4 linked regions of the Homo sapiens genome follow. Each later gene encodes a partner of the first gene's protein in a complex. Each region holds a gene or a part of one and is shown in the gene's direction. Other genes may lie near its edges. The genes, in order: E2F1, TFDP2, CCNA2 and RB1.

Region 1 (7,029 bases):
ATCTCGGCTCACCGCAACCTCTACCTCCTGGGTTCAAGCGATTCTTCTGCCTCAGCCTCCCGAGTAGCTGGGACTACAGACGTGCACCACCATACCCGGCTAATTTTTGTATTTTTGGTAGAGATGAGGTTTCACCATATTGGTCAGGCTGGTCTTGAACTCCTGACCTCAAGTGATCTGCCCGCCTCGGCCTCCCAAAGTGCCAGGATTACAGGCGTGAGCCACTGCGCCTGGCCAAAAACTTAACTCTTAAGAAACTAGAAAGTTGACGGCAGGATCCCAGCCCTATTCATTTTTTTCCTTTTTTTCCCTAAGGCTATTTTTGTTTGTGGTGGTTGTGACAGTTTTTGTTTTTTAAAGTTTTAAAAATTGTAGTTTTTCCTGTATCATTCACACCATTCAGATATGGCACTGGTCTCCCACAGTCCTTCCAGAGGCTGCCCCGAAATGTATTCTATAATAATATAAACTGAACCAGAGAAAAGTTTCATGAGCTTTTTAATCCAAAAGGGATCATATAAATATATCGCCCTGTGACAGTGTTTTGCTTGTCTGTATGTGTGAGGGGATTCTTGTCAACCTGCCTCGGTCCTTGACAGCTGCGTGGTGTTCAAGGGGCTAAACAAAGCACAGCTTTCGTGACCCCCTTCATGGATGGGTGTTCGAGTCATCCAGATTTTTTCAGCAGTGAATGTCTTCACCCCTGCGTTTCGGGGCCCCTCTGCCAGTGTTTATCTAGGGAGAAGTGGCAGAAATGGCATCCACTCAAGCCTTTGTTTTAGGGCGTGGCACTGACCTGCCTTCAGGGGTGGACAAGGGTGGGGATCCCAGGGAGAAGGCAAGGGGTGCAGATGGCAGAAGCATGCTAGGGTTTGGGCCCCAGGGGCGAGTATGGAGGGGGATACATTCTGGCTGGGTTCTGGGGAGGTGGGGCACGTGGCGGGTATGAGTGTGGGCTCTGTACCAGCCAACTAGGGTGCAAGTCCTGGGTCCACCTCTCACTGTGTGGCCTCTCTCAGGTGGAGGCCATCATAGCACCTGCCAAAAGGTGGCCGGAGGGTTGCAGGGGAAGCAGTTGAGTACACAGTGCTTAGAGCACAACAGCTCTTCTTTCCCCTGGGTGCCTTCAAAAGTCAGTGAATGTGCACAAGAGGGAGTGGTTCATCAGCATGGGGGGGGTTCATTCAGCAAACATTTGTTGATGCCAGGCTCCATGGCAGACACTATAGATTCTCAAGTGATTCAGACACCTCTGAGGGTGAGATAGATACATCTGCAGAAATGTGTAGGGAGAGACAGAATGTGGCAAAAGGTTGGGTTTGAGGCAGTTCAGAGGGAGAAGAGGTGACACCTCCTAGCTGATGCGTAAGGTTTCTGCCCACAGAGGTAGAGGGAGCAGGCGTGAAGTGGGGAGGGTGGGAGGGATGCAAGGGCAGTCTAGATTTCTGGGAAAACGTGACTCGGGTTCCTCTAGAGAAGCAGTGGCAGATGAGAGTACAAAGGCAATGGGGAGCTGGAGGAAGGCCTTAAGCAGGGGCGGCGGCATGGTAAGGTTTGTAGGAGGACTGGCTGCAGCAGAGGCAGGGAGACCAGTGTGGAGTCTGCTCAGCAGCCCACTGGGAAGGTGGTGATCGCCGTGGTGATGAGCAGTTCTTGGTAGCTGCATGTGAGGAGGGTGACAGGTCAGGAACTCTAGCTCAGGAAACCCTGTGGATGGTGGAGGGGAAGATCAGTCTGGTTTTGGTCCGGGTACTTTTGAGCAGCCTGTGAGACCTCCAGGACAGTCCCAATCCTGGAGTGTCTGAACTAAGCCAGAGTGCTTAGAGCTTGGGTTCTTCCTCAGACCGTCTTGGGTACAAATCCTGACTCTACCACTTCCTGGGCCTCCCTGGGCTTTAGTTGCCTTATCTGGAAAATGGGGCCATTTTTATACAGCCAGTCCGTTGAATGGAATGAACTAATGGATGCAAGGAACTTGATGAGCACCAGCTGCTACCATGCGTATAGATTAGTCAAAAACCAGAGAGAAGGTGATTTAGCCAAGGGACCTATGTAATCAGTGGCTTAGCTGGGCATGGTGGCTGACTAGTCCCAGCACGACTACAGTGAAGGCTGAGATGGGAGAATTGCTTGAGCCTAGGAGTTTGAGACCAGTCTGGGCAACATAGGGAGACCCCATCTCTACGAGAAATAGAAAAGTTAGCTGGTCTTGGAGGGATGCGCCTGTGGTCCCAGCTGTTTGGAAGGCTGAGGTGGGAGGATTGCTTGAGCCCAGGAAGTCTAGGCTGCAGAGAGTTGTGATCATACCACTGCACTCCAGCATAGTCAACAGAGCGATACCCTGTCTAAAAAAGAAAAAAAAATAGTGCCTTAAAACAACAAACATTTATTATATAGTTTTTGTGGGTCAGGAATTCAGGGAAGACTTATCCAGCTCTGGCTTGGGGTCTCTGGAGATTCAGCCAGTGTTTGGGTTCTGGCTGCTAACAGAAGTTGTGACTAAGTGTTGCTGTTGGGAGGAGGCCATGGTTTCTTGCCCATCATTAGGGCTACTTGAGTGCCCATATGATATGGCAGAGTAAGTGACCCAATACAGAGCAAGGAGGAAGCTCCAGCGCCTCTGACCCAGTCTCAAAAGTGACAGGCCATCCCTTCCACCACATTCCATTCATTCATCCCCAGAAGCAAGTTACCAGGTCTGGCTCATAAGGGGAGAATTAGGCTATATCTTTTGAAGGAGAAGGATCAGAAAGTTTGCGGATGTGTTTTAAATCCACCGCTAGACCCCAGAGAAGTGGTGAAAATGGAATGTCCTGTGTGGTAGGACTGTGACTCTCAGGCTATGTCCCCTCTGATCTCCCTCAGTCACACACTCAGGCATCCTGCTAGAGAAACTGAGGCGAGGGTAGCCCAGAGGCACCCAGCCTTAAGCCAGGTCTCTTCTGGCCTCACTCCTGGTTACTGGGCATCCTCCCGTTTTCGCCACAGGTGAAGCGGAGGCTGGACCTGGAAACTGACCATCAGTACCTGGCCGAGAGCAGTGGGCCAGCTCGGGGCAGAGGCCGCCATCCAGGAAAAGGTACCTATGGAGCTTGGGCTGGGCAGACCCCCTGTGACCAGGCCCAGGTTAGGGATGTGAACAGACAAACATGCTTGCAAGCTAACGTCTGGCTTGTCGGGCTTGAGCCAGGCCTCTGAGGACCCTGATGGGCAGTTGGAGTGGCCACCTGGCTTGGTTTCTCCAGGCCCTGAGGGGTGAGGAGTTCCCCAGCCAGAAGAAGAATGCTGTGGTTGGCCTCGCCAAGGGGAAGGAGCTGGCTGTCCCCCAGCCCCCATCATCCTGCTGCCCTGCACTGCCAGAGTGGCAGGCCTGGCTGGAGGTGGGGGTGGATGCTGAAGGGCCCTGTCTTGCCTGACCACACCCCCACAGGTGTGAAATCCCCGGGGGAGAAGTCACGCTATGAGACCTCACTGAATCTGACCACCAAGCGCTTCCTGGAGCTGCTGAGCCACTCGGCTGACGGTGTCGTCGACCTGAACTGGGCTGCCGAGGTGCTGAAGGTGCAGAAGCGGCGCATCTATGACATCACCAACGTCCTTGAGGGCATCCAGCTCATTGCCAAGAAGTCCAAGAACCACATCCAGTGGCTGTAGGTACCGGCCACACAGGAGGGCAGGCACACCTGCCCATGCCAGCCTGGAGGAGCTGGTAGTAATACCCACTGTGGCTGCCTGCATCCCCATCTTATAGCTGGGGAAACGGGCTCAGAGAGGAGAGGTAGCTTCCCTGAGATGATAGATGGTAAAAAGCACACAAATCTTACATATCCACCTCAGTTGCAGCTTTACTTTTTTCTTTTTTAGATGGAGTTTCACTCTGTCACCCAGGCTGGAGTGCAGTGGTGTAATCTCAGCTCACTGTAACCTCTACCTCCCAGGTTCAGGTGCTTCTCCTGCCTCAGCCTCCTGAATAGCTGGGGATACAGGCGCCTGCCACCATGCCCAGCTACTTTTTGTATTTGTAGTAGAAATGGGGTTTCACCATGTTGGCCAGTCTGGTCTCGAACTCCTGATCTCAGGTGATCTGCCTGCCTCAGCCTCCCAAAGTGCTGGGATTACAGGCATGAGCCACTGCGCCCCGCGCAGCTTTATATATTTATTCATCTGGGTTGCCACCATTCAGATCAAGATAAGAGCATTTTCAACACCCTAGAAGGTTCTCTTGTGCCCCTTTCCAGTCATTGCCAACCCCTCACACCGCCAGGTCACCACTATCCTGGCTTCTCATGCCCTCGGTGAGATCTGTCTGGCATAGATATTTTATTCTTGTTTTATTTTCCCCCTCTCGCCTTCGCGCCAGTCATCATGCTACTACCCTTTCTTTGATACACCTGCCGTTTCATTTTTTGGTAGATCGTTCCATTCTGCATCTTTTGTGGTTTTTTGGGTGGAGGGGGGTGGTTTGAGACAGGGTGTTGCTCTGTCGCCCAGGCTGGAGTATGGAGGCACAAATACAGCTCACTGCAGCCTCAACCTCCTGGGCTCAAGCTCCGTACCTGTAGCTAGGACTACAAGTACATGCCACCATGTCTGGCTAATGTCTTTGATTTTGTGTAGAGGCAGAGTCTCACTGTGTTGCCCAGGCTGGTCTCAAACTCCTGAGGCTCAAGCAATCCTCTGGCCTCAGCCCCCCAAAGTGCTGGGATTATAGGTATAAGCCACCAAGCCCAGCCTTTTTTTTTTTTTCATTTGACAGCATGTCTTGGAAATGCATGTGTGTGTGCATGTGTAATATTTCGTGGCATGTCAGTCCCATCATTTGTTTATCCCGCCCTGGTTGAGGGACATGTAGGTGTTTATATTCGGGCCAGACTTCAAGCCCATGACACTCTGATTTGGAGCCCAGCTGAGGAGCCAGACCCAGACAGAAGCAAGGGCTTGCCTAGGCCTCACAGAACAGAGGCAACAGCAGACTCTGTCCTGAGGCCCAGGGCTCCTGGCCAGAGGGGCCAATCGCTGTTAACCCTACCCTCCCTGGTGCCTCCCCACAGGGGCAGCCACACCACAGTGGGCGTCGGCGGACGGCTTGAGGGGTTGACCCAGGACCTCCGACAGCTGCAGGAGAGCGAGCAGCAGCTGGACCACCTGATGAATATCTGTACTACGCAGCTGCGCCTGCTCTCCGAGGACACTGACAGCCAGCGATATCCTTGGATTGGCCGTAGGGTGTGGAAGGCAGGCTTAGCAGGCAGGGGCTCCACCCAAGTGGGACTAGAGAGGCTTGGATTTAAGAGAGAGCTCTGATTTTGGTTGCAAGTCCTGGCTCAGCATTTTCTCACTGTTGTGACACTGGATAAATTGCTTAACCTCTTGGCCTCAGTTTTATCTATAAAAGGGGAATAATAATATCCAATTCTGAAATTGTACAGATTAAAAAAGAAAAGTGGCTAGGTGCGGTGGTTCATGCCTGTAATCCTAGTGCTTCAAGAGGCTGAGGTGGGAGGATCACTTGAGCCCAGGAGTTTGAGGCTGCAGTGAGCTCTGGTTGAGCCACATCACTCCAGCCTGGGTGACATAGCGAGACCCTGCCTCTAAAAAATAAATTCCCAGCACCAGGCCTGGAGTTGTGTTGAACATTTTACATGGAATCGTTCCCGGTAGCCATTATTACCTTGGGATTCAATGGGTAGAGTGATTTCATTATACAGATGTGGAACTTGAAACTCAGGCGTGAGGTAGGTTTTGAGTGGGTAGGAGGTTGGGAGGACAGGAGTGACTAGGCAGGTGTGAGCCCTGCCTTGTGAGCTGTTGGAGTGAGTGACCCCCTAGAAGTCAAAGGTCATGTGGTCCTTGACTCTGCCAACCCTGGCCTACGTGACGTGTCAGGACCTTCGTAGCATTGCAGACCCTGCAGAGCAGATGGTTATGGTGATCAAAGCCCCTCCTGAGACCCAGCTCCAAGCCGTGGACTCTTCGGAGGTGAGATCTGGGAACTCCGGGCCCAACTGGGCTGGGCTGGGCTGGGCTGGTGGTCACCTGGGCCTCAGTTTACCCTGCCTGCTGCTTCCACCCAGAACTTTCAGATCTCCCTTAAGAGCAAACAAGGCCCGATCGATGTTTTCCTGTGCCCTGAGGAGACCGTAGGTGGGATCAGCCCTGGGAAGACCCCATCCCAGGAGGTCACTTCTGAGGAGGAGAACAGGGCCACTGACTCTGCCACCATAGTGTCACCACCACCATCATCTCCCCCCTCATCCCTCACCACAGATCCCAGCCAGTCTCTACTCAGCCTGGAGCAAGGTGGGTGATGGGTAGGTGGGTGGGGTGGGGCAGGGCCCCTCTTCTGGGGGGTGGGCAGGCACGACAGCCCCTGCCTTCCTCCCTGCTGGGGCATCCCCGGCCTGTGATGCTCCCCGTCTCCCCAGAACCGCTGTTGTCCCGGATGGGCAGCCTGCGGGCTCCCGTGGACGAGGACCGCCTGTCCCCGCTGGTGGCGGCCGACTCGCTCCTGGAGCATGTGCGGGAGGACTTCTCCGGCCTCCTCCCTGAGGAGTTCATCAGCCTTTCCCCACCCCACGAGGCCCTCGACTACCACTTCGGCCTCGAGGAGGGCGAGGGCATCAGAGACCTCTTCGACTGTGACTTTGGGGACCTCACCCCCCTGGATTTCTGACAGGGCTTGGAGGGACCAGGGTTTCCAGAGATGCTCACCTTGTCTCTGCAGCCCTGGAGCCCCCTGTCCCTGGCCGTCCTCCCAGCCTGTTTGGAAACATTTAATTTATACCCCTCTCCTCTGTCTCCAGAAGCTTCTAGCTCTGGGGTCTGGCTACCGCTAGGAGGCTGAGCAAGCCAGGAAGGGAAGGAGTCTGTGTGGTGTGTATGTGCATGCAGCCTACACCCACACGTGTGTACCGGGGGTGAATGTGTGTGAGCATGTGTGTGTGCATGTACCGGGGAATGAAGGTGAACATACACCTCTGTGTGTGCACTGCAGACACGCCCCAGTGTGTCCACATGTGTGTGCATGAG
Region 2 (7,466 bases), on another chromosome or scaffold:
TAAGATCTGTGCATTACCAGTTGTTAAATATTTTGACTGTCACCCCTGTTCATAATCTAAGACCCTGTGGAAAATTTCACATGTACAAAGGAGACAGGAATATTCATAGCATCAGAATATGAAAAAAGGTAAAAACTCCCAAATGCCTTTCAGTAAGAGAATGGATTATCTGCCGGGCATGTTGGCTCACATCTGTAATCCCAGCACTATGGGAGGCCAAGGCAGGCGGATCACTTGAGGTCAGGAGTTCGAGACGAGCCTGGCCAACATAGTGAAACCCCGTCTCTACTAAAAATACAAAAATTAGCTGGGATTGGTGGCGCGCACCTGTAATCCCAGCTACTTGGGAGGCTGAGGCAAGAGAATCACTTGAACCTGGGAGGCAGATGTTGCAGTAAGCTGAGATTGCACCACTGCACTCCAACCTAGGCAACAGAGCAAGAGTCTGTCTCAAAATAAAATTAAAAAAAAAATAATAAAATAGAATGGAGTATGTAAATGTTATTTTTGCATTAGTGAAAATGAATGACCACCCATCAAGATAGATGACCCTCTTAAAATGTTGAACAAAAAAAGATTGGCAGATGAATAATAAATTTTATTCTAAATTTATGAAGTTCAAAAACATGAAAAGCTAAGCAATATATTATTTGGATATACATACACGTGTGTTAAGATTATAAAGAAGAACATGGAAATTATACACAGAATTTAAGATGTTATTTTGGAAAGGGAAAGTTGTGGGGACACACTGGTAGGGGGCACATGAGGTTTCAATGGTGTTAATAATATGTTGCTTAAGCAGGTACATGAGGGTTTATCATGATTCCTCATATCTCACATTTACTTTATATTTTTTAGGGTGAATAAAATATTTTATCCTAAAAATATTTTAGGTTTGATATTAAGGGGTTACTTTTATTAAGGGTGACTTTGAAACCTTTCTACTGCTCTAATGCAGTCATTCCAGAAAACTGGGGAGAGGTTGAATCCCTCCCTGAGGAAATTCCGAGGCTTCGCCTCTACTCTGTCCTATTAAGGTGATTAAACTGTACATAACAGGATTGTCTCTAGAAGCAAGACCCAGATTTAACACTTATAAGTGTTATTTCTTTTGTCAGTCACTAGATGGATTTGGTGTGAAAAGAAGATGCTTTAAAAAAAAATCTGAAACTGTTCTGACAACTGCAGATCTTTTCATGTGATAAAAGGTGTCACTAAGGACCTTCTTACTCCAAGTGTGATTTTTGGCTGCTGAGGCAGCACCAGCATCACTTGGAAGCCTGTTGGAGATGCAGAATTGAAGCCACACCTTACAGACTGAATTGTAAGATTCCCTAAGTGATTACTGTGCACCTCAAGGTTTGAGAGGCAGTGGTCCAGGAGTCTGGTACTTCCACCTGCAAAAGCAGTATCCAGTGCCAGCAGAGGGGGCAGCACGTGGAAATGCCTCAGGTTTAACTGTAATGGACCCGTCTTTTTCACAACCCTCTTTGTGTTGGCTATTCTGTGGCCCGCATATTTCTAAATAGAGTAGACTTTATTATACCTCTCTCCTCTTTCCAAATTTGCTGGGCTGTGGACTCTCATCTATTCAATAAAAACATTGAACTTCCATTAAGCACTGAGGAGATGATAGTGAATAGAATGATATGACTTTGACTCTAGAAGCTTACAGTCTAATGGGATGCAGGTAGCAAGTGAGTAATTACAAGTTTAATGAATGTTGGAAAGTCAAAGAAAATTTTATGGGAAAACAGTTGGAGATGGGGACTCCGGGGAAGCTTTTCTGGAGAAAGTGTTGTTTAAGTTTAGATGAAAAGGCATGTGCAGGTGAGTTGTGGGTGAACTGGGGGATTGTTCCAAGCATAAGGAATGCCAATGAATGGTGCTCTTTGGACATCTGTTTGTATTGCCAGTGCCTTGCATAGTTCTTGGCATACAATAAGTGCTTAATAAATGTTTGCAGAATCAATAAATGTTCTGTCACATTTCAGATGTCTACTCTCTGGCATTGGAGATGGTGGAAACTTTATTTTCCTTTTCAAAGGAAATAAGATCCCTTAATGGGGAAATAAGAAAGAAAGCTGACTGTTGTGCAAATTGCTAAATTGGAACTATGAGTGGGAATGAAAAATTGATTTACATGAATTTTCTTCCCTGTAGCAACTTGACAATTTATTCTGTTCTGGAGAATTCTCAGTTTTTGGCTTAAAAACCAAGCTGTTCCTCCTTATTCTGAATTTCTTGGCCTGCTGTGAAACTAACATTTACTGTCTTTTACAACATGCCCTGATTAGGTCATGGAAATTCACAACTAAATCAAACTAGGATATGGAAAATTTGAAACTTTCACTGCCCATTTTATGTAATGGCGTTGGAAGGTGTTATAAAACATTGACTTTTAAATCTTTATTTTCAAAAGCTATATTATACGATGAATATAATAATTGCCATCATTTATTGAACACTTACTACATGCATTACATAGCAAAATCCTCATACTACCTCTGCAAGAGAGTAAGTTGAACCATATGAAAATTGCCCAATATCAGCAATTTCATGTGGTTCAACCTAGTATCTTCAGACTCTGACCTATAAAGAGGTTAGGGAATCCCTCATAGCCATAACTTCACTCCAAATTTAGTACTGAATCTTTTAGTACTATCTTTTATAGATAAAGAGATCCTAAGATAGTTACAGCTCCTCTATGACAGCGACCCCTTTCCCTACATTAGCCCAAGCACTTTGTGTGTGTACTTCCATCATGGTTATTTACGCATTGAATTGAGGTGGTTTACAATCCATTTCCTCTGCTACACTGAGTTCCTTGAGGGTGGATGTTTTGTCTGTCTTGCTCATTTTTGTATACGTAGTACCTAGAGTGAAAAGTATTTGTTGAATATAACTTTAAGTTTTCTTAAAGTTATATTTTTTGTGGAAACTAAATTTTTATTGATTTGTTACTGGAGAATGTGAAGTAATCACTGGGGTTTTTGCATTTTAGAATCAGTCAGTGGAGTACTGCATTTGACATTCTTGGACTCTCAGGACTAGTTACATGCAATTATGCATACAATTGTCTCTCCACCCTGCCCCAGAGAAAGATCTGAAAGTGCTCTCTTACCTATCTCATCTCCTTTAGGCATTTGCTTAAATACCACCTTCTCCGTGCTACCTTCCCAGATCACTCTATTTAGGACTGAAGCCATTCCTCCAACACCTCTGCTTATATTTTTTTCCCATAGCACACATACCAGCATGTAATATAGTTTTTGTTTTACGTATTCTTTTGCATATTATCTTTCCCATCCTGCTAGAATGTAAGCTCCATGAAGGCAGGAGTTTTTGTCTCTATTTTGTCCACTGATGTCTCCCCATATCAAGAATAGTGTTTGGGGCCGGGCGTGGTGGCTCACGCCTGTAATCCCACCACTTTGGGAGGCCCAGGCGGGAGGATCTCTTGAGTCCAGGAGTTCCAAACCAGCCTGGGAAACATGGCGAAACAGCCGGGTGTGGTGGCGCGGGCCTGTAGTCCCAGCTACTCGGGAGGCTGTGGTGGTAGGATCACCTGAGACTGGGAAGTCAGGGCTCCAATGAGCCGTGATCCTGCCACCGCACTCCAGCCTCGGTGAGAGCAAGACCCCGTCTCAAAAACAAACAAAGTGGCATATAGAAGATCTATAAGATTTGACTGGAGTAAAATGAGAAAGATCTAATCGTTTTAATGCGCTGTTCACACGGGGTTTTTAACTTCGGCACGAACGAATGAACAAAATCTTTTCATATGGAACCAAGTGTACGGGTATTTGGGGTGTGTGCAGTTTCCGCGGGACAGAATGACCTGTCCTGGTTTGGGTATTAACTTGCCTTGATATTGAAGAACCTCCACATTCCCAGTGGTCTCTAACTCATTGTCTGAATAATTTCAAGGTGTCCCACAGTTGGCCCCACGCATAGCCTCAATCACGATCACTCGCCCCCCTGTCCCTTATTGATGCTCCCCCAGGGCGACCCCGCAAAGGCCTGGGGACCGAATGGAACTGCCCCAGTCCCCCTCCTTCCAAGAGAGCTGGGGTTTTCTGGCTTCGGGGTCAGTTGGAAAAGAGATTCCCACCCAAGTCGCAGGGTGGGAGTAGGGGGGATGAGATAGGAGTGATGAAGGAAGTGTGTCTAAAATTCTAGGCCTCAGGCCCGCAGCTGTCCCTGGAGGCGGCGGGGAAGCGGGGTGGTCGGGTCCTGCGGAGGGCTCCCAGGGAGGCCACAGGGGGAACCAAGGGGCGGTGGCTGAGTGCACGAGTCCCGCCCCTCCATCTGTTGGCCCCCTACTCTCAAAGGGAAGCCTGGGGGCGGGGTTTGTTTACTCCGTGCACGCACTGCCGGCCCGGCCAATCCGTGGGGAGCGGCGCCAGGCGTCGCACATTCTGAGGGCCAATCGGCGCGCACTGTGCTGCTCCGCCGCCAAAGCTCGCGCGGGGGAAGCGGGGCTGTAGCTGGGCAGGGAGAGGGCGGACGAAATCGGTAGCGATCTCGGCTGCGGCGCTGCCGCAGCTGCCCGGCCCGCGGGGCGCGCCCTGACCCTTCATCTTTGGGCAGGCTCGAGGGCGCGCGCACGGTTGGCGTTCTGGGGCCTCAAACTCCTGGGCCTTGACCGGGCAGGCCGCGTCTCCCCGGGTGTGAGTCCACCGGGACCCGGCCGCCGCCTAAGCGCGGGCGCCACAGAAGCGGCGGCGCCCGAAGACGCGCTCCTGGCTCGGCCCGACAGCCTCGCTTGGCCGCCAGTTCTTCTGCAGCCGAAGGCGGTAAGGTCTGGGGCGAGGGCGCGGGCCCGCGCGCGGAGGGCCTTTGGACCCGGCCGGGCGCGTTCCTGGGTAGGTTTCCCTCCCTGCGCACAGGGGCCCCCTTGTTCCCCCACGAGTCCCATCTGTTTAGACCTGGGTTCTCCAGGCCTGGCCGGGTAACCCGTGAGTGTCTGGGCCAGAGTCGAAAGCAGAGGAGGGTCACCCTCTTAGTGCATAGAGCAAATCGGGGGAGGTAACGTCCCTGAGTCACGCCTCGTGGAAGAGGGGAAGGGCTGCTTTCTACTTTCTCGTTCTCTTCAAAGAAGGATGGCTTCTAAATCTGGTTTTCCGATTTTTCCCTTCTCCTTTCATGACTCACAGGCCTCTGTGTCCACCAGGTGTTTTGTTTGTTTTTAAAGAGTTTCTAAGCTTTGTGTGCTTGGAAGAACCTCATATGCCCCATAAAGGAACTTTTCTCTGAAGTAGAGGATCGCTTTTTGGGCCCAGACTCCTTTGAGAAAATCTGGAAAGCCAAGGTCTGTCTTCACAAAGAAGTGTAAGGGTTTTCCTAGGATCTCGCTGAGAGACAGTACAACGAAGTGGATGAGCGCCCCAGTCTCTCTTACCAGCCTGTGCTATCTCCCATTGTGTGATCTCGGTTTCTTCATCTGTAAATTAGATGCATCCACCTATTCGGTGTGTTTCGGGGAGTGAATGGACTAATGTATGGAATGCAATCGTAAGAAAATCCTCCACGTATTAAATGCCTTGCATTAGTTAGGCACTTTTATTATTGACTGCCATGGATGCTGGTTTAGAAAAAGACCCTATATTATTTCCCTTTTAGTGTTGAGACAGTGAACGGGCTCATTCCTTTTCCATATTCACTGCTGAAGCTGCCTTTGAGCCCATGAATACTTTTATCTTTTCCTCATTCCATCTCAGAGGGCACAGACTCCCTCTCACTTATTTGCTTTCTTTCAGTAAGGCTCTCTTTTAGCTCAGCCTTCTCCTTCCCCTGTCTCCCCGAGATCTGAGTTTTGTGTCTTTTCATTTGACTTGCACAACCTACTTTTTTTTTTTTCTGGGCCATGTGTTTTCTCTTCATGGCTTGAATTTATCTTCACCTAATAAATAATTTACCTGTTTTTTTTTTCAGCTCGTGAATATATATTCATCTATTTTCTATATGGCATAATCATGTCCCTGTCTCTCTTTAAAAGTAGATATAAAAATAGTTTAATTGATCTATATTGCAGCTTCCTTTTCCATTTCATTGTTTAGCCTGTTATTTAGCTAAACTTTATCACTATCAGATTACTGTAATTAATCTTTAATGGCAGTGTCCATTCTCAGACAGCACCAGGAGAAAAATCAAATGCCTAGACCCCAGATTCTGTCACACTTGTGTACTGGCTCTGGATGTGTTTGTTATTTATTAGAACATCTTGTGCCTGTAACTAGTCTAGTCTAAGAGTAGACATGGTGTCTGTAGCGTTGTTCTGGCTGTGCAGTTGCAGTTTGAGCACTGTGGCCCTTACATTTGTTAATAAAAGGTTCAAGACTTACTAAACTCTTACTTTTCAGTTCTCTTCATTTCTAGGTGTTTAAAAAGGAAAGCTGAATTTTTGCAGTGTGTAATACTTCATATTCTCATTTTGTGATCATGTAATTCCTCCCACCCTGACTCTTGTGAATGTGTAGTCCAAGTGGCACATGGAAGTTTTTCTCTGGCAGCTAAAATTCTTAACTGTCTGAGCCGTGTGCCCTCAATATAACTGATGAAGTGGGATGTACTTCCTTGTCATCATCTTTTAAACTCTTATTGCAATATGTGTTATAATGGATCTCAGAAGAAACTAGAAGGCATAGATTGAGAGTTCTTTTAGATCATAGAATTTTAAATTGTAGTGGATTTTAAAGAGAATCAAATACACTCACCTCTTCATACTTAAATCCTTTCCGTTTTAATCTGGGATACATGACTCTAGGTGTGCGGCATGAATAGATATGAAAGTAGGCTTGTGAACTCTTGGAAATATTATGCAAAATTATGCATATTTGTATATTTTTTGGAGAGACTATTTATAGTGTCATAGTTTCTGAGGCAAAGATATTTGATCAATTCTTTTTTTTTTTTTTTTTGAGACAGGGTTTCTCTATGTTGCTCAGGCTTGTCTGGAACTCCTGGGCTCAAGTGATCCTCCCACCTCACCCTCCCAAGTAGCTGGGGTTATAGGCACACACCTCGCCATGTTTGGACAACTCTAATTTTTATAAAATTATTTCTTTCACTGAACTAGAAATTGTGTCCTCACTGTCTCTTCTGTATTGTGGGTTTTCAACTATTTGAAGATACTTATATTCCACTGAGTGTTAGAAAATATTCTCAGTCTTTAACCTCTGCTAGTGACTTTTGTGTCATTGTTTTCATTCACATCTCCTCACAGAACTCATAGCCCACTTGTGGATTTGTTTAGTTCATCCACATTCTTCTGACAAGCATGGTACCCCAAATTAGGTATTAACTAGTATAGAAGACTAAGTTACCTCTCTAATTTTAAAGCATGTACTTTAAGAGTAGACTTGCTTCTTTGGCAACCACATTACACTGTTACTTTATAATAATTTACTAGTTAAGAAGATTAACTTTGGGGCTAACCTTCCTGTGTTTAGATCCTAGCT
Region 3 (4,969 bases), on another chromosome or scaffold:
AATGAATTATTCTAATGCTACAGTTAAGTTTATAGCATGTAGCCTCTCGTAATTAATGGTAAAATAATCTAATTGCAGTTTTTACACTAGAATAATTTTAACACTATAAATAATTTTCTCAATAGGTTAAATGTAAACCTAAAGTGGGTTACATGAAGAAACAGCCAGACATCACTAACAGTATGAGAGCTATCCTCGTGGACTGGTTAGTTGAAGTAGGAGAAGAATATAAACTACAGAATGAGACCCTGCATTTGGCTGTGAACTACATTGATAGGTTCCTGTCTTCCATGTCAGTGCTGAGAGGAAAACTTCAGCTTGTGGGCACTGCTGCTATGCTGTTAGCCTCGTAAGTCTACCTTGGTTTGTTTAAAAGTGATCACGACCTTTTGTCTAGGGAAGAAATTGATTTTTTTAATGGTGACCTTTTAACATACACCAGGCAGAGTCAGTGACTACTTTAGGGATGGCAATGTGCTGGGGCTTAGGGCAGTGGAGGAGGATGAAACTGTTCTAATCTAGAACACTAATTTTCCCCCAACTGGATTCCTTGAACATGATATAGTACACTAGGTTACAAATTTTAAAACATTTTCCTTCCAATATTACTTTCTGGCATATAAGCAGTGTCTCTTTTATTAAGAAGTAAAGGCTGGGTGCGGTGGCTCGCGCCTGTAATCCCAGCACTTTGGGAGGCCGAGGTGGGCGGATCACTTGAGGTCAGGAGTTTGAGACCAGCCTGGCCATCATGGCGAAACCCTGTCTCTACTAAAAATACAAAAATTAGCTGGGCATGGTGATGCATGCCTGTAATCTCAGCTACTAGGGAGGCTGAGGCAAGAGAATCGCTTGAACCCAGGAGGTGGAAGTTGCAGCGAGCTAAGATTGCACCACTGCACTCTGGCCTGGGCGACAGAGCAAGACTCTTGTCTCAAAAAAAAAAAAAAAAAAGAAAGAAAAACTAAATTTAAAAATGAAAACATGAAACATGTTTTCCTAAGACTTGTATTTCCTAAATTTTCAGCTACTTGGTGAACTCTGGCATTGTTCCCATCTCGAGAAGTCTCATGCCTTTCATTTACTTCCTTTGACTGAACTGGGGAAAATATCTCAAAAGTCCTTTATTGATTTGGGCCTTTTAATTAGCAATTAGCTATCCAGTCTCTACTAGAAATGATGATCAAGTGTCTGGAAATGCAGTTGGTGTGGATTTTGGATTCATTCCATATTCTGCTAATGGGATTTCAGAACTGGGATAAGGAAGCTTGCTTCTCTTTTAGGACTGATTACTTAAAACTTTTTTCATTGTAGAAAGTTTGAAGAAATATACCCCCCAGAAGTAGCAGAGTTTGTGTACATTACAGATGATACCTACACCAAGAAACAAGTTCTGAGAATGGAGCATCTAGTTTTGAAAGTCCTTACTTTTGACTTAGCTGCTCCAACAGTAAATCAGTTTCTTACCCAATACTTTCTGCATCAGCAGCCTGCAAACTGCAAAGTTGAAAGTTTAGCAATGGTGAGTTAACTTTCATTTTGTTGAATGGTGATTCTTTGGTAATAATTAGGGGTAAGCCCTAATTCCTTTGTAAAGGAACCTAGTTCCTTTGTACAGCAGTGGTGAAGAGATTTAGTATTCAGAGGGAGATTAATGCTGCAGTATGGAAGAAAGCCTACTGCTGGCAAAAGATAATCTATATCAGGAAAGCACTAGAAGCAGAGGTCTAAGGATGACATCTTGGGGATGGGTAGTCAGAAGAGTTGTTTTTTAAAAGTTAATAAAGGAGGGAAAATACAGGATGAGGATGGAACAAAACACTAAAATGATTGATATGTTTAAAGATGAGGCTGTGAGATATTTTTTCTAGAGTTGCTACAGAGCCGTTATCAAAGGCAGGAAAAAATTAGGTTAGAAGGCAGAGGTTTGACATTTGAATTCTAAACGCTCTTGTGATCATAAAGTATTTTTTATTCCAGTTTTTGGGAGAATTAAGTTTGATAGATGCTGACCCATACCTCAAGTATTTGCCATCAGTTATTGCTGGAGCTGCCTTTCATTTAGCACTCTACACAGTCACGGGACAAAGCTGGGTATGTATTACGGTCTTCACACACCTATCTTGTGACTGAAATGCCTGTGCCAGATTAAATAATAATTGTCCTACAAAACTGAGGGTTGCCTAGATGTTCTTACTTGGAAAAACTTCAAATATATATAGTTGACCTTTGAAAAACACAGGTTTGAACTGTGTGAGTCCACTTACACATGGATTTTTTTCCAATCAAATGTGGACTGAAACTACAGTATTCAGGGGATTCACAACCCATATATATGGAAGGGTGACTGCAGGACTTGAATATGTACAGATTTGGGTATATTTGGGAAGGGTCCTGGAACCAATCCCTCATGTACACTGAGGGATGATTATATACTGTTTAAGGCATGTTACCTGTTGAACAGTGTTTGTTAGGTAGTAAGCTTAGTTGTAACTTGGATTGAAAGGTGAGCTTTTTTAAAAGCATCTGACCTGTTGCTGGCAGGGAAAGTAGTAGAAAATGGATCGAGGGATGGAATAATGGCCTGAGAAAACTAGTAGTTGGAAAAGTTAAAGATTAGTACTGGAATTTAACATAAGCTTAATGCCAACTATTTACTGTGTTTGGTGTGTTACTAAAAGCAAAACTCAGGGGTTCTCTATTCCCTTCTCTGTAGCCTGAATCATTAATACGAAAGACTGGATATACCCTGGAAAGTCTTAAGCCTTGTCTCATGGACCTTCACCAGACCTACCTCAAAGCACCACAGCATGCACAACAGTCAATAAGAGAAAAGTACAAAAATTCAAAGTAAGAATTAACTTGGATATTGAAGCTTACTTTTCTAGATTATGGTTCAGAGATCTTTGACATTTTAACCTTATTCATGAATCTGCCATAGCCTCCTTGAGAAGCTGTTCTCTAAATTGGTTATGTGTTTGAAGAAGGTTGTAGTTCATGCTTTCTGCCCTGGGTCTGGGGGAGAAGAGAGAAGGAAGGGGGCATGCATGTGTGTTTCAGGGACCAGACAGTGTTTCTAAAACCATCAAGTCGGTCAGACAGAAATAGCATTTTTTAGTTCCCAATACATGAGTACAAACATTATTCCATGATCTCCTTTACCCAGTGAGTGTTTACTAAAAATGCTTTTTTTTTCCCTACTTACAGGTATCATGGTGTTTCTCTCCTCAACCCACCAGAGACACTAAATCTGTAACAATGAAAGACTGCCTTTGTTTTCTAAGATGTAAATCACTCAAAGTATATGGTGTACAGTTTTTAACTTAGGTTTTAATTTTACAATCATTTCTGAATACAGAAGTTGTGGCCAAGTACAAATTATGGTATCTATTACTTTTTAAATGGTTTTAATTTGTATATCTTTTGTATATGTATCTGTCTTAGATATTTGGCTAATTTTAAGTGGTTTTGTTAAAGTATTAATGATGCCAGCTGTCAGGATAATAAATTGATTTGGAAAACTTTGCAAGTCAAATTTAACTTCTTCAGGATTTTGCTTAGTAAAGAAGTTTACTTGGTTTACTATATAATGGGAAGTGAAAAGCCTTCCTCTAAAATTAAAGTAGGTTTAGGAAAACAGACCCTCAAATTCTGACATTCATTTTCCTAAGCAACTGGATCAATTTGCTGACTTGGGCATAATCTAATCTAAGCATATCTGAATACAGTATTCAGAGATAGATACAGTAGAGATTCCCCAGACTTTTTCGCTCTTTGTAAAACCTGTTTGTTTAGGTTTTGCGAGGTAAACTCAACAGAGGTTGGGAGTGGAAGAGGGTGGGAAGCTTATATGCAAATTAACAGACGAGAAATGCTCCAGAAGGTTTATTATTTTAAAGCACATTAAAAACAAAAAACTATTTTTAAAATCCTGCTAGATTTTATAATGGATTTGTGAATAAAAAATACCCAGGGTTCTCAGAATGGAATAAATATCCCTTTTAATAGTTATATATACAGATATACAACTGTTAGCTTTAATTGGCAGCTCTCTTCTTTTTTCTTCTTTTCACTGGCTTTTTACTTGGTGCTTTTTCTTGTTTTGCACTGGTGGTCTGTGTTCTGTGAATAAAGCAAAGTAAGAATTTACTAAGAGTATGTTAAGTTTTGGATTATTGAAATAAGAGGCATTTCTTAGTTTTCCAGTAGGATCTAAAATGTGTCAGCTATGAGTAAGACTGGCATCCAAGAAGTTTATATTATAGATTTAGGTCCTAATTTTTATAAATCACAAGGTAAAAAAATCACAGAACAGATGGATCTCTAATGAAAAAGGGATGTCTTTTTGTTTATAGTCATGTGGCAAGATGAGAGTAAAACCAGAGAGCAAACCTCTATAAGTGTTGAGTATATGTATACATTTGAAATAAACCAGAAATTTGTTACCTTATTTTCTTTGGATTCTTGTCTGGTTCCAAAATGATCATTTCTTCTTCTTCACTATCTGAGAGTATTATGGGAGCATCTTTGTTTTTTTATTAATTTAAAAAAAAAAAAAAAAGTTAAGCAATCTCTTGCAAAATTTATTTCTACATGAATTTATTTCTATCAGACGTTCTAAACTCTTATTTCTGGGGCTGGGCGTGGTGGCTCACACTTTTAATACCCACATTTTGGTAGGCTGAGGCAGGTGGATTACCTGAGGTCAGGAACTCGAGTCCAGTCTGGCCAACATGGTGAAACCCCAGCTCTATTAAAAATAATAGAAAAATTAGCCAGGCGTGGTGGCATGTGCTTGTAGGCCCAGCTACTCGAGGCTGAGGCATGAGAATCGCTTGAACCCATGGAGGTGGAGGTTGCAGTGCCACTGCACTCCAGTCTGGGTGACAGAGCAAGACTCCATCCCAAAAAATAAAAATAAAACTCTAGGTGGAGGCTTAATCTTTTCTTTAAATCAGCTTCTTAGAGCACT
Region 4 (7,029 bases), on another chromosome or scaffold:
AGATGAATGAAAATGAATTAGCCAACAAGAATTTATTAAATGCTTGTCTTTGTTAAGGGGAAAGGACAAAAATAAGCAGTCGCATCATGTAAGATGTGCTAGTAGGTAGAGAGATATATGAAACATTGATAAGAGAAGACTACAGTTTAACAAAGTCACTGGCGTTGAATTGTATAATATTATCTATGGGTTTTTATCTTTTTGTTGTTATCTTTATCCTATTTTCCCAAACAGCTTTAGCTATTACATTTACTTTCCTTCACAGAAGTGTTTTGCTGCTTTGAAGTATATTTGACTTACCATGCAAGCAAATATTTTTCACTGTGTGGTATCCTTATTTTGGAATGACCATGAAAAAGATAATCATATGTTTAAATTTGAAGTGTAATGTTTTTCTAAGATAAAATAAGATCTTAAAGTATTTAATAATGTTCTTTTTCACAGTAGTGTTATGTGCAAACTATTGAAACAAGTATGTACTGAATCAATTTGATTTATAAGTATATGCCAATTATATGATTATTTTCATTTGGTAGGCTTGAGTTTGAAGAAACAGAAGAACCTGATTTTACTGCATTATGTCAGAAATTAAAGATACCAGATCATGTCAGAGAGAGAGCTTGGTTAACTTGGGAGAAAGTTTCATCTGTGGATGGAGTATTGGTAAGGATTTTCTTAAAACGTTTTGAAATTTTTTTTTCTCATTTTAAAAACAACTTCAAATCACTATACAAAAATTGAAAGATAGAAAAATATAAAGACAATAAAAGCTAATAATAATTCCATTACCCAGAGGAAATTTACCTCTGCTAACATTAAAAATGTTTGAGGCCGGGCACGGTGGTTCATGCCTGTAATCCTACCACTTTGGGAGGCTGAGGCAGGTGGATTGCCTGAGCTCAGGAGTTCGAGACCAGCCTGGGCAACATGGTGAAACCCTGTCTCTACTAAAATACAAAAAAAAAAAAAAAAATTAGCAGGGTGTGGCGTGCGCCTGTAGTCCCAGCTATTTGGGAAGCTGAGGCAGGAGAATTGCTTGAACCCAGGAGGTGGAGGTTACAGTGAGCCGAGATCGTGCCACTGCACTCCAGCCTGGCAACAGAGCGAGAGTCTGTCTCAAAAAAAAAAAAAGTTTGAAAAAAATTCCTCCATAAATGCCTCCCACCAAACTATTTTAAAGCAGGTCTTAGTTATATTTTATTCACTATGATACAAGGACTTTTAAAAAAACACCGCCATACCTTATAAAATAATTTTTATACCTTCTAATATGCAATCAGTGTTCAGATTTCCTGACTGACTCAGAATTAGTTTTGTTAGAATTCAGGATCTTGAAAATATATTGATATATTCCTTTCATTTTTTCTTTGCGTAAGTATAGATGTATATGTTTAATAAAAGGAGCAAATAATTACTAGAGTTTTATATGTACTGGGGCAATAGTATAAGAATTTTACATAGCCGGGCATGGTGGTGTGTGCCTATAGTCCCAGCTACTTGGGAGGCTGAGGTGGGACGATCACTTGAACCTGGGAGGTGGAGGTTACAGTAAGCCAAGATCGCACCACTGCACTCCAGCCTGGGCAACACAGGAAGACCCTGTTGCAAAAAAAAATAAATAAAAATAAGGCTGGGCGTGGTGGCTCAAACCTGTAATCCCAGCACTTTGGGAGGCCCAGGCAGGTGATCACTTGAGGTCAGGAGTTCTAGACCAGCCTGGCCAACATGGTGAAACCCCATCTCTACTAAAAATACAAAAATTAGCCAGGCATGGTAGCAGATGCCTGTAATCTCAGCTACTTGGGAGGGTGAGGCAGGAGAATTGCTTGAACCTGGGAGGCAGAGTTTGCAGTGAGCCGTGATCATGCCACTGCACTCCAGACTAGGCAACAGAGAAGACTCCATCTCAAAAAAAAAACAAAAAAAACCCCAGAACTTTACAAATCTACGAATAACTCATTTAAAAATCATTGAGATATGAAATATAAAATCTTTTTTTATGTGTAAAATGTGAAATGTTCATTTAACAGATGAAGACACTGAGTAGAGTGAGGTTGAGTAACTTGACCAAGGTCCCTAGGAAATAAGATCTCAAATATAAATTTGAGATTATACATGTAGTTATGTATAGTTACCTGTAGTTACACATAGTTTTGTATTTTCCTGTTTTTTTCTCATATGAGCATTTTCTTATTAAAGTTTTTTTGTAATATAGTTTCTAGTGATAGTATAATATTTTAGCTAGTGGATGTATTTTAATTTGTTAACTCTTACTGGATATTTGGGTTTTTTCCAACTTTTTGATGCTATAAAATAATGTAATAAACATTTGTATTCGTAAGAATAATGCCTGGCACAAAGTGAGTCCTTGATAACTTGTTAAATAAATTAATGAATGAATCTCTGATTATTTTATTAGAATAAATTCTTATAAGTTGAATTACTAAATCAAAAGCTATGAACATTTTTATGACTCTTGATGATTATTGCTAGATTACACTTCAGACAGATACTTTTAATGAATTTACTTTCTCAACATAGTAGTATAAGAGTATATATCTGTTTTTACTGATCTGATTAACACAGCGGAATGTGTTTATGTATGTCCCATAAGAAAATTGTTTAAAACCATTAAATAAAATCTCTGGCAGTAAAAAGGAGAAAACAAGTGTCATGATTTCCAAAGAATTGAACATAGTCTCACATTTCTTATGTAAAAAGAGAGGAATACTGAAGTATCTTGAATGTATGACTTGGGTATTATAATCCCCAGGCATCTAATGTATATTTTAACTGACTTGGGTACCTCATGTACAAAGCTGTTTTTGTGCATATACAATTAAATGGGATCAGAGCTCCTTCACTTTTCTCTTCCTAAAATACTAGATTTTTAGTGTTCAGAAATTTTGGAAGGGATAGCTGATTATAAAGAGCATTAGTGAATATACATACTGTAGTTTTCAATTTATAAGTGCATTGTGTTCCAAATCTGTTTGCAAGTTTGATATAGTAGTTAGGTTTCCAGCCTGGTTCACATAACTTATTTTTTTTTGTACTAAACTATAACAATAATAGTTTTAACAGTAGAGGCTCTTTTGAGCTTCAGAATTGAATACATATATAAGCAAATGTTACTGCTTTATTACCCTTTTTCATCCTGGCTTTGTCTCTACCTTCCCTGGGAACTGGCCCAGTTTGAATCTTATTTCCTAATGGAGCTCATAATGGGGACTAGGATGTGTGAAATTATTTATGGCTAGGTACTGGAGGAAGGTAAGAAAGGAATTTCATGTTATTTTTGGGATTTGAGGTGTGCTTTTGAAGGGTATGATGGAAGATGATGTCCTGTTGTCCTGTTGTAAATCAACAGACTTTTCCTTGAAATATGATTTTAAGTTAGAGTTACGTTTTTGAGGTTTGGCCTGAGAATTTAACCTTCATTTATATAATAATATCTAAGGGAGAATGTGATACAGTGTGTTCTAAGAAGCAAATGTAATGACAGAATAAATGTGTTTCCAGTGCAGCTATTCTAGTGGCAGTTGTCTCTCTTCTTTGAAACAAGAGGAGGAATATTGTCAAAAAGGAAACCCTTTTTAACAATAGAAAGTAGGTGATGTTTATTGGGATAGAGGATGGGTTAAGAGCAAGGATTAAGAGTCAAACAGATATACCATGTCCGAACTCCATTATCTTGAACATGTTATCTACAATTTTCAAGCCTTAGTTTTCTTACCTGTAAAAGGGACTGACAGTAATTTCTGGATCTTGGAGTTATGTGCAGATTAAATAAATTAATGCATATAAAGCTCTTATTAGAGTCAATGAGTATGTATATTAGGTCTTGCAAACAGAATAATTTTACTTAAGAAATACCCCAGAAAATTTTATCATTGATGTATTTTTTTTTAGGAGAACTTAGGATATCAGTTAAAATGGTTACAATTTTAAATGCATTGTAGTGATTTTGATGTAGTAATGTTTGTTAAAATTCTTATTTTTAAGTACTTTAGCATCAGAAAAGTTGTTTATGCATACATGAAAGCATATATTAATCCCTTTAAAGGAAAAGTTTGTGGTATTTTGTCTAGAAAAGTGTTTTCTTTTTTTAAAATAAATATTTAGTAAAGTGTAATAATAAAGATTAGCTTTGTTCATAAGGTTAGATTGTATTTATGCTGATTATAGCATATGAATAGGACTTTCCATTAAGAAATTGGCTAAGGTGATGTTCATATTGTGACTTAAGGTGAATCAGCTGTTAGAATTTTGGTTTACTTTCTGCATCTTGATTGGTAGTATGGTAGAATGGAAAATGCCTTGGACCTCAAGGCAGGAAACTTTGGTTGTAATTATATTGTAGCTATATGATTTTAGGCAAATTGGTTAATTCTGTGAGTCTCAGTTTGCTCACCTGTAAGGCAGAAATAATGCCTGAATGTGAACCTCATAGGCTTTTTGTTATACATACATATATATGTATATGAAATGTATGATATACATATCTCAAAGAGCTTTGGGATATATTGCTCTTGATAGAACCACTTACTTATTTTTGTGATATGGTGGTTATATTTTAAATAAATACAGTCATGTGTTGCTTAACAATGGGAACACATCTGAGAAATGCATCATTAGGTGATTTCATCGTTGTGTGAACATCATAGCATGTACTTACACAAACCTGGATGGTATAGCCTATGACACACCTATGCTGTGTGGTATATAGCATGTTGCTCCTAGTCTGCAAATGTGTACAGCATGTTACTGTACTGAACATTGTAGGCAATTGTAACACAATGGTAAGTATTTGTATATCTATACATAGAAAAGGTACAGTAGATCATCCATATCCTTACTGATTTTCTTTCTATGTGTTTTACTAATTATTGAGGGAGAAATATGAAGCCTCCAACTATAATTAGAATGGTCCTTTTAAATTCTGTTTTTTATTAATGTATTTTTTATTTTATTTTATTTTGAGATGGAGTCTTGCTCTGTCACCCAGGCTGGAGTGCGTGGCACGATCTCGGCTCACTGCAACCTCTGCCTCCCGGGTCCAAGCGATTCTCCTGTCTCAGCCTCCCGAGTAGCTGGGATTATAGGCATGCGCCACCACACCCGGCTAATTTTTGTATTTTTAGTAGAGACGGGGTTTCACCGTGTTAGTCAGGCTGGTCTCGAACTCCTGACCTCATGATCTGCCCTCGGCCTCCCAAAGTGCTGGCATTACAGGCGTGAGCCACTGTGCCTGGCCTTTATTAGTGTATTTTAAAGCTTTATCCTTGGGTACATACAAGTTTAGAATTTTTATGCCTTTTAGGTAAATTGGTACCTTTATCATTATGTAATGTGCTTTTTTATCCAAATTTATATCTTTTGTTCTGCAGTGTCCACATATCGATTCCACTTTTCTTGTGATCACTCTTTACAATGTGTATCGTTTACCTTCATTTTGATTTTAACCTATTTCTTTTTTATATTTAAATGGATTTTTGTTGTTTTGTAATCAGCATTCATTAAAAATTTTTAGCTGAATACTTTTTACTTTTGTTAGGGTTCCCTGTGTCTCTTCCTTTCATGTTGTGCCACAGATGAGCCATTATTTATATCTTTTCTCTCATTGGAGGTTCCTTTTTTTAGGGGAAATTAAATAATCTGAAATATAAGGAAAGGATATGTTGATTTCAAGAAAGGTTGTTTTTGTTCCTTATCTGGCTTGTTCTTGTTGTGAGGGTGGGAGCAATACTCTTTGCAGCTTTCTGCATTCTAGGAAGAAGTGGAATTTTACACTACCATTTGCTTTCTTTACAGGTTTACCTTGGTATTCAGTGTCTGTCCATAGGACTAATTAAAACTATACCAGACTCCTTCTATTTTAAACCTATCCGTTCAGTCTCAAGTTATCTTTTTGCATTGCCTCTCACGTCTGTCCCTTCATTTCTTTTACCAGCAGTGCTTGGTTTTTACTGTTTGCTTTGGTTTTAATTTCCTTTTTATTTTTTTAATTTCAGAAGGTGGAAGCTTATGTCATTGACTTGAGCATTTTTTATGCATGTTTTAGTGCCTCTTTCTGACTAGTCTCTTCTTTTCTCCATCCAATCCATCCTGTGCCTGATTTTTAGAAAAGACTGGTGTACAGTTTGCCCCTTTTGCTTTAAAATTTATTTTTCATTGTTACAACCCACTCTCAGTAGCCTCCATTGTAACACCCTCCCATGCTCCCACCACCATTATGAAGAAGTAAAGTCCAAACTTTCTCAGTATTTGTAGTTCTTCATGGTCTGTGCTTTAACCTTCCTTCCAGTCTTATTTTTTATTTCCATTGTTGGCCCCCAATGCCTGTGTTCTCTTCCCTTCCATATGAATCTTCCATATGAATATCTTCCATATGAATATGATAGTATTCATATTCATGCGATCTCCCCTTTTTTTGGAATACCCTTCTTTTTTCTTTTAGCCTAAATTCTGTTTTTAAGATGCAGTTAAAGCTTCTCCTTTATGCATATCTCTTATAAGATATATTATTTGCAGACTTTTCCCCCCATTCTGTGAGTTGCCTTTTCACTTTCTTGATGATGTCATTTGCAGCGTAGGATTTTAATTTTGATGAAGTCCAGTTTTCTATTTTTTTTTTGGTGGTGGTTTTTTTTTTGGTTGCTTGGGCTTTTGATGTTGTATCTAAGAAGGCCTTGACTAACCCAAGGTCATGAAGACTTATTCTGTGCTTTCTTCTAAAAGTCATATGGTTTTTAGTTCTTGTCAGTCTTGGGTTTTTTTTTGTTTTTTTTTTTTGAGTTAATTTTTGTGTATGATGTGAGGAAGAGGTCTAACTCCAGTCTTTTGAATGTGGATATCCAGTTGTCTCTGCACCACTTATGGAAAAGACTATTCTTTCTTCATTGAATTGTTTTGGTGCCCTTGATGAAAATCAGTTGACTATAAAAACCAGGGTTTATTTCTGGAGTCTCAGTTCTATTCCATTGCTCTGTATGTTTATTCTTTTTTTTTTTTTTTTTTTTTGAGACG

The links.
Region 2: E2F1 (region 1) and TFDP2 share a complex: the UniProt entries of both Homo sapiens proteins name them as parts of the DRTF1/E2F transcription factor complex.
Region 3: the proteins of E2F1 (region 1) and CCNA2 are in contact, whole or in part, in a crystal structure (PDB 1H24), measured with the Homo sapiens proteins. Residues at the interface, in NP_005216.1 of Homo sapiens: Val88 (codon at 2,989), Lys89 (codon at 2,992), Arg90 (codon at 2,995), Arg91 (codon at 2,998), Leu92 (codon at 3,001), Asp93 (codon at 3,004), Leu94 (codon at 3,007), Glu95 (codon at 3,010); in NP_001228.2 of Homo sapiens: Met210 (codon at 183), Ile213 (codon at 192), Leu214 (codon at 195), Trp217 (codon at 204), Glu220 (codon at 213), Val221 (codon at 216), Glu224 (codon at 225), Arg250 (codon at 303), Gln254 (codon at 315), Tyr280 (codon at 1,355), Ile281 (codon at 1,358), Thr282 (codon at 1,361), Asp283 (codon at 1,364), Thr285 (codon at 1,370).
Region 4: the proteins of E2F1 (region 1) and RB1 are in contact, whole or in part, in a crystal structure (PDB 2AZE), measured with the Homo sapiens proteins. Residues at the interface, in NP_005216.1 of Homo sapiens: Ala267 (codon at 5,938), Pro268 (codon at 5,941), Pro269 (codon at 5,944), Glu270 (codon at 5,947), Thr271 (codon at 5,950), Gln272 (codon at 5,953), Leu273 (codon at 5,956), Gln274 (codon at 5,959), Ala275 (codon at 5,962), Val276 (codon at 5,965), Asp277 (codon at 5,968), Ser279 (codon at 5,974), Glu280 (codon at 5,977), Asn281 (codon at 6,075), Phe282 (codon at 6,078); in NP_000312.2 of Homo sapiens: Ser829, Arg830, Ile831, Leu832, Val833, Ser834, Ile835, Phe845, Ile848, Met851, Val852, Asn854, Ser855, Arg857, Val858, Leu859.

The regions. Positions count from the first base shown.
Region 1 is NC_000020.11:33,676,376-33,683,404, reverse strand, and holds part of E2F1 (transcription factor E2F1), read left to right. Parts: intron 1-2,988; coding exon 2,989-3,079; intron 3,080-3,430; coding exon 3,431-3,650; intron 3,651-5,051; coding exon 5,052-5,204; intron 5,205-5,863; coding exon of another isoform or gene 5,864-5,864; coding exon 5,865-5,979; intron 5,980-6,074; coding exon 6,075-6,300; intron 6,301-6,425; coding exon 6,426-6,673; 3' UTR 6,674-7,029. UniProt on the Homo sapiens protein: Transcription activator that binds DNA cooperatively with DP proteins through the E2 recognition site, 5'-TTTC[CG]CGC-3' found in the promoter region of a number of genes whose products are involved in cell cycle regulation or in DNA replication.
Region 2 is NC_000003.12:142,146,519-142,153,984, reverse strand, and holds the start of TFDP2 (transcription factor Dp-2), read left to right. Parts: upstream 1-4,440; 5' UTR 4,441-4,802; exon of another isoform or gene 4,803-4,871; intron 4,872-7,466. UniProt on the Homo sapiens protein: Can stimulate E2F-dependent transcription.
Region 3 is NC_000004.12:121,815,922-121,820,890, reverse strand, and holds the end of CCNA2 (cyclin-A2), read left to right. Parts: intron 1-125; coding exon 126-349; intron 350-1,311; coding exon 1,312-1,519; intron 1,520-1,977; coding exon 1,978-2,091; intron 2,092-2,713; coding exon 2,714-2,847; intron 2,848-3,204; coding exon 3,205-3,253; 3' UTR 3,254-4,034; coding exon of another isoform or gene 4,035-4,119; 3' UTR 4,120-4,443; downstream 4,444-4,969. Other genes in the region: EXOSC9 (exosome complex component RRP45), read right to left, coding at 4,035-4,119, 4,444-4,522, 4,697-4,747. UniProt on the Homo sapiens protein: Cyclin which controls both the G1/S and the G2/M transition phases of the cell cycle. Functions through the formation of specific serine/threonine protein kinase holoenzyme complexes with the cyclin-dependent protein kinases CDK1 or CDK2.
Region 4 is NC_000013.11:48,306,744-48,313,772, forward strand, and holds part of RB1 (retinoblastoma-associated protein), read left to right. Parts: intron 1-536; coding exon 537-663; intron 664-7,029. UniProt on the Homo sapiens protein: Tumor suppressor that is a key regulator of the G1/S transition of the cell cycle. The hypophosphorylated form binds transcription regulators of the E2F family, preventing transcription of E2F-responsive genes.